Linked DNA regions of Homo sapiens: regions 1 and 2 are each reported to be linked to region 3. The links are microRNA targets in miRTarBase. Many come from high-throughput screens and were not tested one by one. Region 3 holds a microRNA gene; each other region holds the end of a gene's coding sequence.

The links. Region 3 holds the annotated microRNA hsa-miR-6778-3p (UGCCUCCCUGACAUUCCACAG, at 1,627-1,647, shown strand). A microRNA usually pairs through its seed, bases 2 to 8, with sites in the 3' UTR of a target mRNA and lowers its output. Matches are read on the target gene's strand: a 7mer-m8 pairs with bases 2 to 8, a 7mer-A1 pairs with bases 2 to 7 and ends in A, and an 8mer does both.
Region 1: the mRNA of ZNF665 is a reported target of hsa-miR-6778-3p. Seed matches in the 3' UTR shown: 7mer-m8 at 2,503-2,509, 7mer-m8 at 2,368-2,374, 7mer-m8 at 2,336-2,342, 7mer-m8 at 1,398-1,404 and 8mer at 1,231-1,238.
Region 2: the mRNA of TWSG1 is a reported target of hsa-miR-6778-3p. Seed matches in the 3' UTR shown: 7mer-m8 at 1,928-1,934.

Annotation. Positions count from the first base shown.
Region 1 is chr19:53,161,889-53,164,994 of GRCh38, forward strand. ZNF665 (zinc finger protein 665) reads right to left here. Exons shown (of 4, transcript NM_024733.5): 4 at 536-3,106. The coding sequence ends at 2,565. Among named protein-coding and RNA genes, the nearest start is that of ZNF347, 4.4 kb to the left of the region's middle.
Region 2 is chr18:9,399,261-9,402,366 of GRCh38, reverse strand. It overlaps TWSG1 (twisted gastrulation BMP signaling modulator 1), which reads right to left. Exons shown (of 5, transcript NM_020648.6): 5 at 1-3,021. The coding sequence ends at 2,840. Among named protein-coding and RNA genes, the nearest start is that of TWSG1, 66 kb to the right of the region's middle.
Region 3 is chr17:18,339,209-18,342,460 of GRCh38, reverse strand. MIR6778 (microRNA 6778) reads left to right here and starts at 1,575; the gene lies at 1,575-1,647. SHMT1 (serine hydroxymethyltransferase 1) reads left to right here. Exons shown (of 12, transcript NM_004169.5): 6 at 1,648-1,729; 7 at 2,206-2,418.

The DNA.
Region 1 (3,106 bases), not on the chromosome of region 3:
ATACCACATAAGTATCCCAAGGCAGAGTGTGGAGAGAATAATTCAAGTACAAAATACAATTAGTTTCTGGGCTGGGCATGGTGGCTCACACCTGTAATCCCAGAGCTTTGGGGGGGCCAAGGCAGGTGGATCACTTGAGGTCAGGAGTTCGAGACCAGCCTGGCCAACATAGTGAAACCCTGTCTCTACTAAAAATACAAAAACTAGCCGGGTGTGGTAACGGGCACCTATAATCCCAGCTACTTGGGAGGCTGAGGCAGGAGAATTGCTTGAACCCGGGAGACAGAGGTTGCAGTGAGCCGAGATCACGCCACTGCACTCCAGCCTGGGTGACAGAATGAAACTCCATCTCAAACAAACAAACAAAAAAACCAAAATACACTTAGTTTCTGAAAATTATATGTTGTTTGATCCAACAATGGAAATCATTGTTCTAGATCCTTCGATAGCTTAATGGTGCAGTGTTGTTATCTGTTATGAAGTATGCTACTGAGGTAGGATAAAACTATGTTGGCAAGAAATGATTCATTCATACTTATAAAATACATCAAATTTTATTAGTTAAAACATTAAATCTATGATGCATTCTTAAATAGTAGCAAAATGTGATTCCAGCAGTTAATGTAAATCCTAGTAACAAACATGGGATTCTGGTTACTTTGATTAAACTTCTTATGCTCGGCCGGCCGGGCACGGTGGCTCCAGCCCGTAATCCCAGCACTTTGGCAGGCCAAGGTGGGCGGATTATGAGGTCAGGAGTTCGAGACCAGCCTGGCAAACATAGTGAAACTCCATCTCTACTAAAAATACAAACATTAGCCAGGCGTGGTGGTGCATGTCTGTAATCCCAGCTACTTGGGAGGCTGAGGCAGGAGAATCGCTAAAACCCAGGAGGCGGAGGTTGCGGTGAGCTGAGATTGCATCACTGCACTCCAGCCTGGGCAACAGAACAAGACTCCATCTCAAAAAAAAAAAAAAAAATCAATCTTTGCTATGCAACAGCTATTGGCATTTGATGGAGAAGGTAGCCTCCACTTTTCTGCATTATTTGTACCACACATCAGTCCCTAATAAGCTATTACTCTCCTCTAATAAAAATCCGAGTGTCTTCCTGGCTCTATTTCATGGTCTACTGGTAGAGAATTTCTTTCTTTCTTTTTTTGAGTCAGAGTTTCGCTCTTATTGCCCAGACTGGAGTGCAGTGGCATGATCTCGGCTCACCACAACCTCTGCCTCCCGGGTTCAAGCGAGTCTCCTGCCTCAGCCTCCTGAGTAGCTGGGATTACAGGCATGCGCCACCATGCCTGGCTAATTTTGTATTTTTAGTAGAGATGGGGTTTCTCCATGTTGGTCAGGCTGGTCTCGAACTCCCGACCTCAGGTGATCCACCCACCTTGGCCTCCCAAAGTGCTGGCATTACAGGCGTGAGCCACTGTGCCCGGCCAGTAGAGAATTTCTTCCCATACCCACAGTGCTCTTCTGTCAGAAGAAGGGCACCTGCAGTGCAATAAGGATGATGAGTGACATCATAGTTCATCATCCTCTGCCCTTTCCAAGTGCTCTCTAATTCAGACTATATTTAATTTTAAAAGGCAGAGTCTTTTTTCTTCAGGAGCTTGGAGAGAAATAATCCTCACCTAATGAAGTGAGTGAGCCCTTCCATCCTTTGATTCTTTCCCGAACAACACCATGTTAGGCGTATAATCATGTATAAAATCAGCACATTGCAAAGTTCTGGTTGGAAGTTATAAATAGTAGCCTTTTCAATAAATCTTAAATACTTCAACAAAACATTTTATAAGCTGAAAGTAATTGGCCATTTCCAAACATCCTACAACCTTTGATATGTATCATGTAATGAGTTTTAACACATTTGGACTTCTGATTATGCTGAAGTATATAATATCAGAGGGTTATGAGGAAACTAGAGACTGAGTTCTACTCTTCCTATGAATCCTCACCTACAGTTGTGGTCCAGGAGTAATAGTCTCAGCATGCATGTTACGTTTGTGTGACTTCATCAAAGATGTATCTTTTGATGCGTATTGAGCTCTGAGACCTGGATAAAGCTTCTGTCATACATAGTATATTCACAGGATTTGAACTCTGATGTCTGTTAATGCTTAAACTCATCAGGAGTTTGCCACAGTCACTGTATTTGTAAGAATTGTCTCAAGAATGAATTCTCTGATGTTGTGAAAGAATTTGTGGCTGAAAAACTGGCCGCACTCCTTTGTAAGGTTACTTTTTTTTTTTTTTTTTTTTTGGAGATGGAGTTTCACTCCTGTTGCCCAGGCTGGAGTGCAATGGCATGATCTCGCTCACTGCAACCTCCGCCTCCCAGGTTCAAGTGATTCTCCTGCCTCAGCCTCCCGAGTAGCTGGGATTACAGGCGTGCACCACCACACCCAGCTAATTTTTGTATTTTTAGTAGAGACAGCGTTTCACCGTGTTGGCCAGCCTGGTCTCGAACTCGAGACCTCAGGTGATCCCCCCGCCTCGGCCTCCCAAAGTGCTGGGATTACAGGCGTGAGCCACCACGCCCGGCGTCCTTTGTAAGGTTTCTATCCACTATGAATTCTTCGATGTTTTGCAAGGTTTGAATTTTGAGTAAAGACCTTGCCACATTGGTTACATTTGTAAGGTTTGTCTCCAGTATGGACTGCCATATGGGTAGTTAGGGTTGAACGAACACTGAAGGCTTTCCCACACTCATTACACCTATAAGGTTTTTCTCCAGTGTGAATTCTTCTATGATTTGCAAGATGTGAATTTTGAGTGAAGACCTTGCCACATTCATTACATTTGTAAGGTTTTTCTCCAGTATGGATGACCTGATGGGTAGCTAGGTTTGAATGTACACTAAATGCTTTGCCGCACTCATTACACTTATAAGGTTTCTCACCAGTGTGAATTCTCTGATGAATTGCAAGGTACGAATTGTGTCTGAAGACCTTGCCGCAATCATTACATTTGTATGGTTTTTGTCCAGTATGTATTGTCTGATGTATAGTTAGGCTTGAATGAACACTAAAGGCTTTGCCACACTCATTACACTTGTAAGGTTTTTCTCCAGTATGAACTCTCCAATGCCTTGCAAGTTGTG
Region 2 (3,106 bases), not on the chromosome of region 3:
AATACACAATTTTATATGTTGTAGATCATATAAAATACAATAAACATAAACTCTTGGGAATGCAGAATAGATTTCAAAATCTTAAAAGAAGCTTTCATAAAAATAAACTTTAGAAATGTGGCTTATATTTACTGCATTTTTTCAGAAAACTTTCTTTTCTCCATTTTAATGCTACCCTGATTATAAATAATGGTCCAAATTTCTAACATCTTATCAATTTTGCTTTCTGGAATTTTAGAAATCACATGTCTAAATGAAGACCTCTTTTTTATACCACCCTACATAAACACAGAATAGATTTTATTTAAATTACCATTTGATTTGGCACCACTATTGTAAATACAATTTTAGTAATAATTAAATGTTATGGGGGAAAAACTAACAGAAAAACCTGCTAACAAGCACAAGTCTTACTATAAGAAAGGATCTTTTATATATGGCTTTTATGATACCCACTGATTTAAAACCTAGTGCTTTAAAAATCTGGTTATAAAAAAAGTAATAACCTAATTTTTTATTAAAAAAGAAAAAAGAATTTTTACCAAAACTTCAATATAGAAGTGAATGTGCTTAGAATGGTAATAGAGGATCTAACTTTTAACCAGGCTATCAACTTCTGGAATATTTACTTTCAATTTGGAAAAATATTGTTATTCAGAACCTGAAATACATTATAAAACTGGAAATGGAATCTTTTAGGTGAATTCTTTCTTTCAAACCCTCATAAATCAGAAAAAATAAGCCAAATTTGAAGGCAAAAGATCTTTACATTTAGGGATAGTTTCTAATGAAAGAAATCAAGATAAGAAAAATCAATTAAAACAATGTGGTTTAAGAAATTATCCTCCTAATGTAGGGGGTGGGAAACAGATATTACATTTTAAAATTTAATGAAGACCTAAAAAATGATAAATGCAGTTTTAAAATATTTGTTGTCATCATTAAGAAAACATTAGGCATGTTGCCAACACACACACAAACATCACTCCACTCACAGTAGGAAATGACTGAAAAACAGCAGAGTTGAACTGCAGCAGGAGACTGCAGATTCCTTTCAGCTTTCTGTCTAAAGTTCCAGAATACTTTCAGCTCTACAGATGCTCATGAAGAAGGGGAGCTAAATGTTTTCAAGGCACTTTTAAATGAGGCATTCTAGGTAAAAGGAAGAAAAGGAGACCCTAATGTTTCCCTACCAAAAAATATATCCATGAGCTAAATCTCAACTTTTTAAAAGGCTAAAATATCTTGAATATTCATTAGAGTTATTTGAAAGAGCAGAAAAGGTATTAAGACCTTAATTTATAACAGTTGATCATAATATTACAAATGATCTTTTAACTAACTACTATTCAGATCATGAATAATACAAAATGTGTCCAAGAGCATTATCTATTTTTATATACTAAAATATGTAGACGTATAAAGAGGTATTCCTAAAAAGTTGCTTGTAGTTCAAATATGCACTAGAGCAATTAGTAATTTTGTAAAATTGAGTCTGTAATATAAATATTTATGTTTTAGATTCATGCTTTAAGATTGAGATTTTATTACTATGAAGGGCACATAGTATCTTTATTGAAAGAAACATTTATTGAAACATTATATAAAATGTTGACTAAATTCTGTAGTGTATTTGGAGTGAACATCATCTTGAATAGAGATTCTAAAATTTCATAATCTTAACCTCCGACGATATGATTATACTTGTTTAAAAAGAACATTATATCCAGATATAAACTTAACAAATGAAATATTACAAAATATGAACATAGATAGTTTTGTTTCCCATAATAATTCCCAGCATTTTCACCCTGTCCTGTTCATACGAGTCAATTCTCTTCTTCAATTCCTGTCCCATCAGCCGTCTGCTGAAAAACACTGCTTTGTCTTGGCTAAGGCTGCACAAGTTCAGTCTCGCACTGGCTCAGCCTCCCCTTTCAGCAACACCATTTCCCTACCAGGGTACAAGCTGTTTCCTGGTGCTCTAGGTGGAGTCTGATTTGGCATTCGTTCCCCATCCCTAGTGCTCTTTAAGCTGGTACCTGAAGTCACAGAAACGCTTTGCTTGCTAATTATTTACACCAGCAGTGCATTTAAAGCAATTTCATAGGTACACCCTGAAAATCTTGGTAAAGATTCTTCATCACTGCCTATGTCAGCACTTTGGGCAGGGGAAATGGAAGAGAATAGGAAACTTTCTCTAAAGCTTTGTCAACACATGTATTATAGAATGGATTCTACTATGTAAGAGTTCTCAATTATAAAATATGGTAAGCATTTACCTTTTAAAACCAACATAAAAGGGATGAAATTAAGCTTTTTATGATGATATTTTTATATGAGTTATCAGAGTGGTATATCAAATATCTACTCTATTTATAAAATGGATAAAACAAGGCACAATGAGGAATGATGTGCAACTATAAAAACTCAGTGTGCTAACAGTAGCACATGAAGAAATCATAATTCACATCAACATGCTTCTGCTAACACTTTCAAAGCAAAAACCTTTTGGAATGCTAGAGGAAAACCACGTCAGACTTCATGTTAAAAACCTCAGATCTTTCAAGGAATTCTCTGCGCACCTGCTTCTCATATGACCAAAGTTGTACATGTATTCAAAGGAAAGGGCTTATTGCTAGGGGGCAATAAAATCAGTAAGAACAGTTATATAATTAAACACATCACTGGCTATGTCATATTTTTAAAAGAAACTTATTCCAAAGTCTTTACAACTTAACTTACTGGGATTCTGATACAAGATACAACCAACAGACTTACAGAATAACTTTTTATACCTATTATTTTACTAAGTTGCTTTGGTTTGCATTTGTCTTCTTTAAAACATGCAGTTCATACATTTGACAGTTTTACTACCATAGTCAATACATTCTGGACCAATGCACTCGCAGCAGGCATTATGAAACCAGCGATATTTGGATGCTCCCATGGACTCACAGGATATTTTACACTGATGTATGGACATGCAGTCATCAAAATAAACCACAGTACACATGTGTTCTGAAAAACAAAAATTTAAGATTTCAGGGCAAGAAAGAAGAAAAACAAAAAAATAAAATGCTTTATTACCTAGTTGAATATTAAC
Region 3 (3,252 bases):
GCCTGTGGTCCCAGCTATTCAGCAGGCTGAGTGGGAGAATCGCTTGAGCCTGGGAGGTAGAGGTTGCAATGAGCCGAGATGGCACCACCGCACTCCAGCCTGGGTGACAGAGTGAGACTCTGTCTCAAAAAAGAAGTGAGATCATGCAGTATTTGTCTGTCTGAGCCTGGCGTATTTCACTTAGCATAAGGTCCTCCAAGTTCATCGGTGTTGTTGCAAATGACAGAATTTCTTTTTTCAGACTGATTATTATTACATTGTTTATATATATATGTGTCACATTTCCTTTGTCCATTCATCTGTTGATGGACATGGCTTTATTCCATAACTTGGCTATTGTGAATAGTGCTGCAGTGAACATGGGAGTGCACATGTCTCTTTGACATACTGATTTCAAGTTCTTAAGATATAGATTCACAAGTGGGATTGCTGAATATGGAATTGATTTGTGTGGGTGAGGCGGGCATCCAGATAACATTTTTGTCCAAATGGATGCCCAGTTGACCTAGTGCCATTGATTGAAAAGGTCATCCTCTCCCCACTGCACTGCAGCGTCACCACTGGCATGGATCCAATGACCTGTGTTGTGTGTGGTTCTGCTTCTGGTTAAGCCAGATGCTCTGCCCTTCCATGAATGCGTGCTGCCTTAATTACTATAATTTGTCAAGCATTTTGTGACACAAAATACACAACGCAATGATGTTTTGTGTAAAGGTTTGGTATGATTTTCCTTTTATGGTTTTTGTTATTTACATTTCATTTTCTATCTTTCTTGCTTTTATATACTTTTTGGCTTTTTTTTTTTTTTTTTTTCAGATGGAGTCTCGCTCTGTTGCCCAGGCTGGAGTGCTGGAGTGCAGTGGCACAATCTCGGCTCACTGCAAGCTCCACCTCCCGGGTTCACGCCATTCTCCTGCCTCAGCCTCCCAAGTAGCTGGGATTACAGGCGCCCGCCACCATATCTGGCTAATTTTTTGCATTTTTAGTAGAGACGGGGTTTCACCGTGTTAGCCAGGATGGTCTCGATCTCCTGACCTCATGATCTGCCCGTCTCAGCCTCCCAAAGTGCTGGGATTACAGGTGTGAGCCACCGCGCCCAGCCCCTACTTCTTGTTTTTCAATGTTGTATCCAGTGACCTTGCTAAATTTGCTTATTCTAACAGTTGGCCCCTAGCATCTTGATTTTCTAGGTATATTGTGTTGTCTGTGTGTAATGTCAGTTTTTAAATTTCTTCTTTCCTAATCGTTATGCCTTTTGTTTCTTTTTCTTGCCTCATTATACTTGGAATAGAAGTAGTATTAGCAGGCATTTTGGTCTTGTTCCTGAAGGTAACCATTTTGGTTTCCATTGTGTGGTCCCGTCACATTTGTTTCATTCTGCAGGTGCTTTTTGGTTCCTTCTCAGCAGGTAGTGCCCCAGCAGCAGGGCTCACTACAACCCTGGGACTCCTCAGGGACTCCTGGGTCTGTGAGCCATACTTGGTTGAGCAGGCTGAACACACCAGTATCCATCCTGTCTCACCCTCAAGTCCTCATCTAGGACATCATTCCTCTTGTCATGGTGGGTGGAGCCAGTTCAAGTGGGAGGACAGGAGGCAGGTGTGGTTGGAGGAAGCAGCCTGAACCTGCCTCCCTGACATTCCACAGGTGAACCCAGATACTGGCTACATCAACTATGACCAGCTGGAGGAGAACGCACGCCTCTTCCACCCGAAGCTGATCATCGCAGGTGATGCGCGGGGCGGAAAGTCACCTTGTTCACCAGTAGCCTGGTGCCTCTTACAGAATGAGGATGGAAAGATGTTCGCACCCTGTTGAGCCCACTGCTAGTTTCTGCCCTGGATAACTGAGTTTCTGGGGTCTACATATATTAGTTTCTTTCAGGATACAGATGTGTGTTTGCTGCTTTTTGTGCTATGTAGATTAAGATGTGAGACTGTTCTCAGAGAAGCATCTAGAAATGTCAGGCCCTGACTGCGCTGGCAATAGTAGTTGGGGCCATCTCAACCACCAAGACGTTGAAGAGTTAGAGTGGTTGCCTTTAGCACAGAGGTGCTTTTTGAGGGCATTCTCCATTTTTGCTCTGAGACTTTAAGGGAAGAAATCTCTGGGCTTTCAGATCTGCACATCTAGAGGCCACTGTGAAGCCAACTCAGCTGGCCGGTGGACATCTCTGATGCAGCTGTGTCACCTTTCCTGTCTCAGGAACCAGCTGCTACTCCCGAAACCTGGAATATGCCCGGCTACGGAAGATTGCAGATGAGAACGGGGCGTATCTCATGGCGGACATGGCTCACATCAGCGGGCTGGTGGCGGCTGGCGTGGTGCCCTCCCCATTTGAACACTGCCATGTGGTGACCACCACCACTCACAAGACCCTGCGAGGCTGCCGAGCTGGCATGATCTTCTACAGGAAAGGTGAGCTCCCGAATGTTGGGTACAGATGGGTACCATGGTTTACATTTCTCCTGTGGGGGTTCAGATTCAGTTGAGGGAGCTGGGAAAAACTCTGACCTGGGATCCTTGGAAAATATTAAGATCCCAGTCCCTTAAAGAGCTGCTTAGGAAGGAGCAGTGACAGGCTTTACAGAAAGGATTCCCGGCCAGGTGAGGTGGCTCGCGCCTGTAATCCCAGCACTTTGGGAGGCCGAAGCGGGCAGATCACGAGGTCAGGAGATCAAGACCATCCTGGCTAACACGGTGAAACCCCGTCTCTACTAAAAACACGAAAAATTAGCCGAGTGTGGTGGTGGGCACCTGTAGTCCCAGCTACTCAGGAGGCGAAGGCAGGAGAATGGCGTGAGCCTGGGAGGTGGAGCTTGCAGTGAGCTGAGATTGTGCCACTGTACTCCAGCCTGGGCGACAGAGCGAGATGCCGTCTCAAAAAAAAAAAAAGAAAGAAAGAAAGGAATCCCCAGAAGGAGACTGTCAGCCACAGCTCCTGCTTCACTTTTGTGCATCCAGGTCCTAGGAACATAGGAGGGGGATCAGCAACCACTATGTGTTAGGATGGCGCCGGTTGCTGAACTCGAGAGGCAGGTGTTTGAATGAAAGGAGGGTGCATGGCTGGCTGGGGGCCACTGGGAGGCCTCACAAGGCTGCATTATTCTGGTGAACTTACAGTGATCCATCATGTTTCTCAAAGAGAAAGACTCATAGTAGTCAAACTAGAAGACATGGATGTATAAACATTAATATCATTTTAGTGAAGGTTTTTCTTTCCATTACCTCATAACCTACCCCTAGGCACTC